2 linked regions of the Homo sapiens genome follow. The protein of the gene in region 1 purifies or fractionates together with the protein of each later gene. This does not show direct contact. Each region holds a gene or a part of one and is shown in the gene's direction. Other genes may lie near its edges.

The links. Proteins that work in one complex are often made in the same cells at the same time.
Region 2: the proteins of ZNF567 (region 1) and DDX50 purify together in Homo sapiens (co-immunoprecipitation; one large-scale study listed by IntAct). This does not show direct contact.

The regions. Positions count from the first base shown.
Region 1 is NC_000019.10:36,685,473-36,691,462, forward strand, and holds the start of ZNF567 (zinc finger protein 567), read left to right. Parts: upstream 1-2,139; 5' UTR 2,140-2,162; exon of another isoform or gene 2,163-2,406; intron 2,407-3,924; 5' UTR 3,925-4,025; exon of another isoform or gene 4,026-4,225; coding exon of another isoform or gene 4,226-4,249; intron 4,250-5,990.
Region 2 is NC_000010.11:68,914,815-68,918,314, forward strand, and holds part of DDX50 (ATP-dependent RNA helicase DDX50), read left to right. Parts: intron 1-3,500. UniProt on the Homo sapiens protein: ATP-dependent RNA helicase that may play a role in various aspects of RNA metabolism including pre-mRNA splicing or ribosomal RNA production.

The DNA.
Region 1 (5,990 bases):
GTCCTGGAGGGGAATGCAAAGTTGGTCAAGACATGGGAGCTAGACAGCAAGGAAAAGGAATTGCAAAGGGAAGTTAGTAGTTAAATAAGTTACCACATATCCATGTAATATAATACTAAGATAGACAAATGCAAAGTTGTAGAAAATAGTTAAGGAATATTTTCAAGATACTGTATCAGAGAAATCACTTTACAAAACAGGTTGAACAATACAATTATATCAATATGGTCATTTAAAAAGTCTAGAAAGTTAAACACCTGTTTCAGTTATTTATTGCTATATAACCACCTCAAAAGTTTATGGCTTAAAACAAAAAACAATTAGCTTATTATTTGGGGGGCTTGGCAATTTGGGCTTGGCTTGCCTGAGTGGTTCTTCTGCTGATCATATTCATGTGACAGCTGTCAGCTGTTGGCCTGGTGGAGGCTGGATGGTTCAAGATGGTCTCCCTGAAATTTCTGGCCGTTGTTGCTCACTGGACCTCTCTCTCCAAGTGATCTTTAATGCGCAAGCAAGTTGCTCTTAGCCTTCAGTCATGGTGGTCTCAGGGCAGGAAAAGGGGAAGAGAAAAAGCTGCAAGACTTCCTGAAGCTTTGTCTCAGAAGTCTCACAATATCACTTCCACCACATTCTATTGGTCAAAGCACCTCACAAGGCCCTGCCTAATAGTAACCTAACCACTGACTAGCATTTCAGGAGGAGAAAAAATACTCCCTTGCTGAAAAACAAAATCAAAGAGAACAAAAATAGAAAATACAACAAAACTTCCTTGACCTTGGTTTTCAGATATGCTCAGCAATGGTTCCCTTTCCTCAGGGCTCTTAGAGAACCTCAAGGCAAGGGAGAAGGGGTAAGGAATCATGAGACATCAGACCTTTCTTGGAACCCAGATTGGCTAAATTGGAAAAAATTATTGCCACCACACGAGCTCTCATCATCTACCATAAACATACTCAGATGGAAGTAAAAGGGAGATGGGAGTACTGCTAACCCTTCTTAGTATTCAAGGGAAAGGCCAGGGTCACTGATATCCAGGACTGGGGACTTTCTCAAAATTCACGTTAAGTCTCCTGCGGAGACAGCTCTGGGAATGATGTGGATCACATGGAACCTGACCTCTGAGAGTTCCCAAGGGAGAGCCTCTGAGGAAGGAATCCTACTCCTAGGTTCTCCCCACGACGTCTTCCCAGAACTCTGCTTAAGGGACACTTACAACTCGAAAAGCCTCGTTCCGAAAACAGGTCTGTCCTTTTTCTGTTTGCAGATTTTATTCCACCACTCGATTATCCCTTCCCTTTTTGATGGCCATTTCACTGCAGCTGGGGTCTATACAGCTATAAAGCGGGAGAAAAAAGGAAGCTGGGAACTCAGAGATGCAGAGCCCAAGAAACAATCGAGTCTAAAACTGCCGCTTAGGTGGGCACTCCGCCAGGATCCCCTGTGTCAAACACCAGGCTGAGAACTGGGGACAGGTGTGCCCTGAGAAGACAACGCGGGCCATGCTTCATTGCAAGATGACTCTGCTTAACATAGGCATGGATCATAGTCCTCACAGGCACATTGGGGAGATCTTCGACAGACCCCTCAGTCCCAACATTAAACACAGCACTGCAGAAATGAAGCTTTACCCGTTACACACACAACACCACAGACCTAAAAGGCTCTTCCATCACACGGCCACAGCAGCACTGTCATGATGGAAGGTCTCAAACCCTACAGTGTCACACACCCGACAGCCGACCACGGCCACCCAAAGGTCCCGCATCCGAGCAGGGACAGGAACACAATCACGCACCTGTCGCAGCCTCCTCGCCGCGCACACCGCCGCCTTGTCCTGGCATCAAACACACACGCACAGGTGCATACACAGGCCCGAGCTACGGCCCTGCACACCCTGTCTGCGTCCCGGGAGCTCGGGGCTTCCTCACCGTGAGCGCCGCCCTCATCCCAGCCACGCACTATGAGAATTTGGAAGGGGAACCAGAGATCAAAGTTCGAAAACCGCCCGGGCGCCTGTGGGAAATGTAGTCCAAGGCCGGAAACGCCCGGATGTGGAGAAGGCGCGCGTAGCCGGTGGACAGCAGGAACGCGCCGCGGAGACACCTGGGAGGCATCGTCCGCGTGGGAGTGCGCATGCGCAGACGCCCGGCCGGCAACCGAAGGTGAGGCTGGTGGGTCCCGCGGGCGCGGAGAAGGCGGGTGACGGTGTGACCCGTAAGGAAGGCTGAGGAGGGAGGCGGGAGCCTGGGCTGGGGAAAGCAAGAAGGGAAGAGGAGCAACCTGGGACGAGGAGTTGGCTGGAGGAAAGTGCGAGTCCGGGCCTCAGAGAAGGCTGGGAGGGAAGCAGGAACCAGAGCGCGGGCCCGGGAGCACCTGAAGAAGGGAACCGGTTGCCCGAGGCGGGGGGTGAGCTCCCCAGTGGCAGGAATTTCGTCTGATTTTCGTCCCCTGGCTCCTGGAGCACGGCCTGGCACACAACAGGCGCTCCGTGTGTGTGTGTGTGGCTTTTCGTACCTGTCCTGTGTGTTGTGGTAGGGGAATGTGTTATTCTGTGTGACGTTGTGGAACCGGTTGTTTATGAAAGTGATAGGGTCCCTGCGTGTCTTAAGTTTTAATTTAAATTAGATGCGAGTCGATTTGTGTTTGAGCCTGTGTCCGACTCTGGAGAGGCGACAGTGAGGGCATTGTGAGTGAAAGGTTGTTACTTTTTGTAGAAGTTCTGTGAAATTGTGCACGACGTGGGGGCCTATGGGATTATGACTATGTAGTGGGTGATACAGCTATGAATATGCCTAATTTTAAAAGTATTTGGTGTACACGACCTATGATGACTGTGAATGTGGCACACTGTGTGACTTAGGTGGAGTGCTTGAGAAACCGAGTGTTGACTAAAGTATGCATTGTTTAGATTGATTTATGAGTATTGGGCATTTTATATATGCCTGTAGAATTTGACTCTGGTAATTAGACAAGTAAAATAAGTAGTGATTTTTTTTTTTTAATGGAGAGGAAGAGGCAAAATAATTTTCAGAGGGTAAGATTGGGCCCATGCGGGCCGGGCGCGGTGGCTCACGCCTGTAATCCCAGCACTTTGGAAGGCTGAGGCGGGCCGATCACGACGTCAGGAGATCGAGAACATCCTGGTTAACATGGTGAAACCCCGTCTCTACTAAAAATACAAAAAATTAACCGGGCGTGGTGGCGGGCGCCTGTAGTCCCAGCTACTTGGGAGGCTGAGTCAGGAGAATGGCGTGAACCCGGGAGGCGGAGCTTGCAGTGAGCCGAGATCGTGCCACTGCAATCCAGCCTGGGTGGCAGAGCAAGACTCCGTCTCAAAAAAAAAAAAAAGATTGGGCCCATGCGCGGTGGCTCACGCCTGCAATCCCAGCACTTTGGGAGGCTGGGGCGGACAGATCACCTGAGGTCAGGAGTTTGACCAGCATGGTGAAACCCCGTCTCTACTAAAAAATATAAAAATTAGCTGGGCATGATGGCGCATGCCTGTAGCCCCAGCTACTCGGGAGCTGAGGCAGGGGAATCGCTTGAACTCGGAGGTGGAAGTTGCAGTGAGCCAAGATCGCGCCACTGCACTCCAGCCTGGGCGACAGAACGAGACTCCGTCCCTTCCCTTCCAAAAAAGATCATTTATTGGGAAACCTGGTATTGACTGATGACTGATATGCTTAAATGAATAGAATACCACTGGGACCACACAGAAAAAAACTTTATCTCATAACTGCCACTCTCAAAATTCCTATTTGAGAGTGTGTGTGTGTGTGTGTGTGTGTGTGTGTGTGTGTGTATTTATTTTTTTTTTTGCTGGATGAATTTCTTCTGCTGGAAGCCTGAAATGTGAAAGGATACATGATTAGTTTCTTCTCTAATTCCCCAACCTTTATTTTGTCTCCTCTTTACTCCCTATAGGCAGTCTTTAGCTCTCATGGATTGGGAGCTGGGAAAGGAATGAGAAGACAGAAGTCAGAGACAAGAAGAGGCTAACATGACTGATACCACTATAATTTAGTGTAAGTCATCTCTTACCTTCCAAGAGAACCTGCTGCTTGGAACCTCCAGATACACTTCCCTTCTCATGGGCATAGCCTCTTCTCCAGCTGCTGCCCCAGTGCTTCCTCTGGGCATTCAGTGGCCCACCGACTCTGGTGGGTGGGTTTGTCCAGTCATTCCTCTTTGATAGGACCCAAGACAACCCAGACAGCCTCCACCCATGGGGTCTTCACCTAGTGCTAAGGTGAGAATTAGCCACCTCAGTCACTTTGCCCTCCCAAATCTTAGAAATATGTAAAATTTTTGCCAAGAATTCTCTCACCACTTTGGTTCCTGGTGGCCTCAGGGTCTGAGGGACCCCTTGTGTGTTGTAAAAAAGGGAGAATCACTCACGTTTTTCCCCCTGGAAAAACACTGTTCTAAAAATAACAGTCTCTTAAAAATACATGCTCCTCTCTCAGCCTCTCCACTGTCTTTAAAGGAGGAGTTTAATGATAGCAAAATTTTACACTCAACAGCTCTATAAGATCCTGTTCTTGAATGAAGTTCTCTTAGAATTTTGTTTCATTTGCTATCTTTGGGATATCAGCTGAGGCTGAGGCAGAAATATTTCTAAGTTTTCATCCTATTAAAAATTGAACAGTGATAACAATTAGAAAACTCAGGGTTGTTGGAAAAAACATTAACAAATAAATAGGGGGTGTGTGTGTATGTGGAAAGTATGGGGAAAAAGACTTATTTACAGTGGTCATCAAAAATAAGAGATACAAAGGAAGTGACTTTACTAATTACATGATATGTTATTAAAGAGCACATTTTAAAATAGGACTTTTGGTGGGGCTTGGTGGCTCATACCTGTAATCCCAGCACTTTGGGAGGCTGAGGTGTGTGCACTGCTTGAGTCCAGGAGTTCAAGACCAGCCTGGGCAACTTAGTGAAACCCTGTCTCTACAAAAATACAAAAATTAGCCAGGCGTAGTGGCACGCCCCTGTGGCTAGCTACTCAGGAGACTGAGGTGGGAGGATCACCTGAGCCCAGGGAGGTCGAGGCTGCAGTGAGCCGTGATCACACCACTGCACTCCAGCCTGGGCAACAGAGTGAGACTTTGTTTCAAAACAAAACAAAAGAAACTATAAAACTCTTAGGAAAAAACACATAGGCATACATCTTAATGATCTTAAATTTGGCATGCATTCTTTTGGAGTTTCTTTCATGGTGATTGAAATGTTCTAAAATTAGGTTGTGGATGATTGTTCATTATGATGGTTTGTGAATATACCAACAACCATTGAATCGTATACTTTAGATGGATGAATTTTATGGTGTGTAAATTATATCTCAATGCTGTCATTTAAAAAATCTTGGCTAGGCCACCTCTGCAATGTGTAACACTGAGCAAGCCATGAGTGTCTCCTGTGTTAGTCATGTTAGTCAATTTCAGGTATAATAGGACCTACCTCACTCAGGGTTTTTGTGAGGGTCATTGGATCTACATCACAGGGAATTATTTTGGAAAGTGTAAAGAAATAATTGAATTCCAAATATCCAAGAGAAGGAAACTGGTTGGATTAACCAAGTACAGTGCCACTGAGGAGTATTATGCAGCCATGAAAAGGGATCAGTTGCATGGATTTATGGAGAAGGGCCTCCAGGATACTTTGGATTTTTTTGTTTTCTTGTTTTGTTTGTTTGTTTCTGAGACAAGGTCTCCCTCCGTTGCCCAGGCTGGAGTGCAGTGGCTTGATCATGGCTCACTGCAGCCTCGATCTCCCTGGGCTCAGGTGATCCTCCCACCTCAGCCTCCCAAGTAGCTGGGACTACAGGCATGTACAACCATACCTGGCTAATTTTATTTTATTTTATTTTTGTACAGTTGGGGGTCTTGCTATGTTTCCTAGGCTGTTCTTGAACTCCTAGGCTCAAGTGATCTGCCCACCTTGGCCTCCTCAGGTGCTGGGATTATAGGTGTGAGCTACCTTGCCTG
Region 2 (3,500 bases), on another chromosome or scaffold:
AGTGTGAGACCAGCCTGGCCAATATGGTGAAACTCTGTCTCTACTAAAAATAGAAAAATTAGCCGGCCTGGTGGCGGGCCCCTGTAGTCCCAGCTATTTGGGAGGCTGAGGCATGAGAATCACTTGAACCCAGGAGGTGGAGGTTGCAGTAAGCTGAGATTGCGCCACCGTACTCCAGCCTGGGTGACAGAGGGAGACCCTGTCTCAAAAAAAAAAAAAAAAACCACAGAAGTCAGAAGAAGAATCCATAAAGGAAAAGGTTTATAATTTTGACTCCATGAAAGTTAAACCAATGGTATGTTTAAAAAAAGAATTAGGGCCGGGCGTGGTGGCTTACGCCTGTAATCCCAGCATTTTGGGAGGCTGAGGCAGGCGGATAATGAGGTCAGGAGATCGAGACCATCCTGGCTAACACGGTGAAACTCCATTTTTACTAAAAATACAAAAAATTAGCCGGTCATGGTGGCGGGCGCCTGTAGTTCCAGCTACTCGGGAGGCTGAGGCAGGAGAATGGCGTGAATCCGGGAGGTGAAGCTTGCAGTGAGCCAAGATCGCGCCACTGCACTCCAGCTTGGGTGACAGAGCGAGACTCTGTCTCAAAAAAAAATAAAAGAAAAAAAAGGCTGGGTGCGGTGGCTCACGCCTGTATTCTGAACACTTTGGGAGGCTGAGGCGGGCAGATCACGAGGTCAGGAGATCGAGACCATCCTGGCCAACATGGCGATACCTCGTCTCTATTAAAAATACAAAAACTAGCTGGGTGTGGTGACCCGCACCTGTAATCCCAGCTACTTAGGAGGCTAAGGCAGGAGAATTGCTTGAACCCGGGAGGCGGAGGTTGCAGTGAGCCAAGATCGTGCCACTGCACTCCAGTCTGGAGACAGAGTGAGACAACATCTCAAAAAAAAAAAAAAGAAAAAAGAACTAAAGGTAATATTTACCGTATTTATGACAGGCAACTAGGTAACATGTCATCTTTCTATTTAATAGATGCATATATATGTGTATGTAGGAAAGACTAGGTGACTAAGTGAATAGTAGTATCTGCAGAATGTAATGCAGTGGTTAAAAACAATCAGTGATAAAAACCAAATTATACAATGATGTATACAAAAATTACACTATTTTAAAAAATAAATAGTGCTAAATGGATTCCTTAGGCATTTATGTAAATATACAAACACAGGTTGAAAGAATAAACATCAGATAATGATTACTTCTGGGAAGGGGCATGCTGGATGGTAAAAAGAAGCTTTGTGGGCCGGGCGTGGTAGCTCATGCCTGTAATCCCAGCACTCTGGGAGGCCGAGGCGGGTGAATCACGAGGTCAGGAGTTCGAGACCAGCCTGGCCAACATAATGAAACCCTTTCTCTACTAAAAATACAAAAATTGGCTGGGCATAGTTGCGCACGCCTGTAGTCCCAACTACTCGGCAGGCTGAGGCAGGAGAATTGCTTGAACCCAGGAGGTGATAGTTGCGGTGAGCTGAGATTGCGCCACTGCACTCCAGCCTGGACAACAGATTGAGACTCTGTCTCAAAAAAAAAAAAAAAAGAATAAGAAAAAAGAAGCTTTTTTATTTTGTAATGGTTGAAAGTTTTGCAGTAAGAATGTAAAATGTATAGTAAAAAACAGTTGATAAGAACATTTTCAAACATATAAAATTGAATAGTAAATTGAATAGAAAGATTGAATAGTATAAAGAACATGATATACCCATTACCTATTACCAGTCTTTAACAATGATCTTTTCTTCACCCCTGCATTTGAAACAATCCCAGTCATCATTTTATCTTCAAGTAATTGTATGTATTTCCAAAATGATAACTAAGGGCTCTTTAAAACCACAGTCATTATCAGTAGAAGAAAAACAGTAATTTTTTTTGAGATGGAATTTCACTCTTGTTGCCTAGTCTGCAGTGCAATGGTGTGATCTCAGCACGCTGCAACCTCCACCTCCCTGGTTCAAGTGATTCCTCCTGCCTCAGCCTCCTGAGTAGCTGGGATTACAGGCGCCCACCACCACACCTGGCTAATTTTTTGTATTTTTAGTAGAGACTGGGTTTTGCCATGTTGGCCAGGCTGGTTTCGAAATCATGACCTCAAGTGATCCGCCTGCCTTGGTCTCTCGAAGTGCTGGGGTTACAGGCGTGAGCCACTGCGCCTGGCATAGTAATTCTTTAATATCATTAAATACCTAGTGTGCACATTGCCCTTGCTGTCTTTTTTAAATAGTTTGTTTGAATCTGGATCCAAATACAATTCTTGACGTTGCTACTGATTGATATGCGTCTTAAACATTTTATAATCTATAGTTCCTTTTTTTTTCTTTGCAATTTTCTGTTGAAAAAACTCATTTGTTGGCCAGGCGCAGTGGCTCACACCTATAATCCCAGCACTTTGGGAGGACGAGGATGGTAGATCACCTGAGGTCAGGAGTTCGAGACCAGCCTGACCAACATAGTGAAACCCTGTCTCTACTAAAAATACAAAAATTAGCAAGGCATGGTGGCACGTGCCTGTAGTCCCAGCTACTTGGGAGGCTGAGAAAGAAGAATCGCTTGAACCAGGAGGCGGAGGTTGCAGTGAGCTGAGATCGTGCCACTGAACTCTAGCCTGGGCAACAGTGTGAGACTCCGTCTCAAAAAACAACAAAAAAACTCATTTGCCTTATGAGTTTCCCACAGTCTGTTTTGCTGATTTGCATCCCTGTGGTTTTTATTTTTCCTTATTTTTTTACTGTTAACACCACTCAAAGATGTGGTGGGTTTTCTTGTTTGTTCGTGTTGTGTTTTTGTTTTTGTTTTGAGAGTCTTGCTCTGTCGCCCCGGCTGCAGTGCAGTGTGGCATGATCTCAGCTCATTGCAGCCTCCACCTTCCAGGTTCAAGAGATTCTCCTGTCTTAGCCACCTGAGTGGCTGGGACTACAGGCATGCGCCACCATGTCCGGCTAATTTTTGTGTTTTTAGTAGAGATGTAGTTTTGCCATGTTGGCCAGGCTAGTCTGGAAGTCCTCACCTCACGTGATCCACCTGCCTCCGGCTCCCAAAGTGCTGGGATTACAGGTGTGAGCCACTGTACCTGGCCTCCCCGTAAGTATTTTAACATACATATCTTTTTTTTTTTGAGATGGAATTTCACTCTTGTCGCCCAGGCTGGAGTGCAGTGGCGCAGTCTCAGCTCACTGCAACCTCTGCCTCCGGGGTTCAAGCGATTCTCCTGCCTCAGCCTCCTGAGTAGCTGGGATTACAGGCGTCTGCCACCATGCCCAGCTAATTTTTGTATTTTTAGTAGAGATGGCGTTTCACCACGTTGGCCAGGCTGGTTCAAACTCCTGACCTCAGGTGATCCACCCGTCTCGGCCTCCCAAAGTGGTGGGATTACAGGCATGAGCCACTGCGCCCTGCCTATATATATCTTTAACTAGAGTGCCATATTTACAGTTTTTTAAATTGAGGTAAAATTCACATAACTAAAACTAACCATTTTAAAGTATACA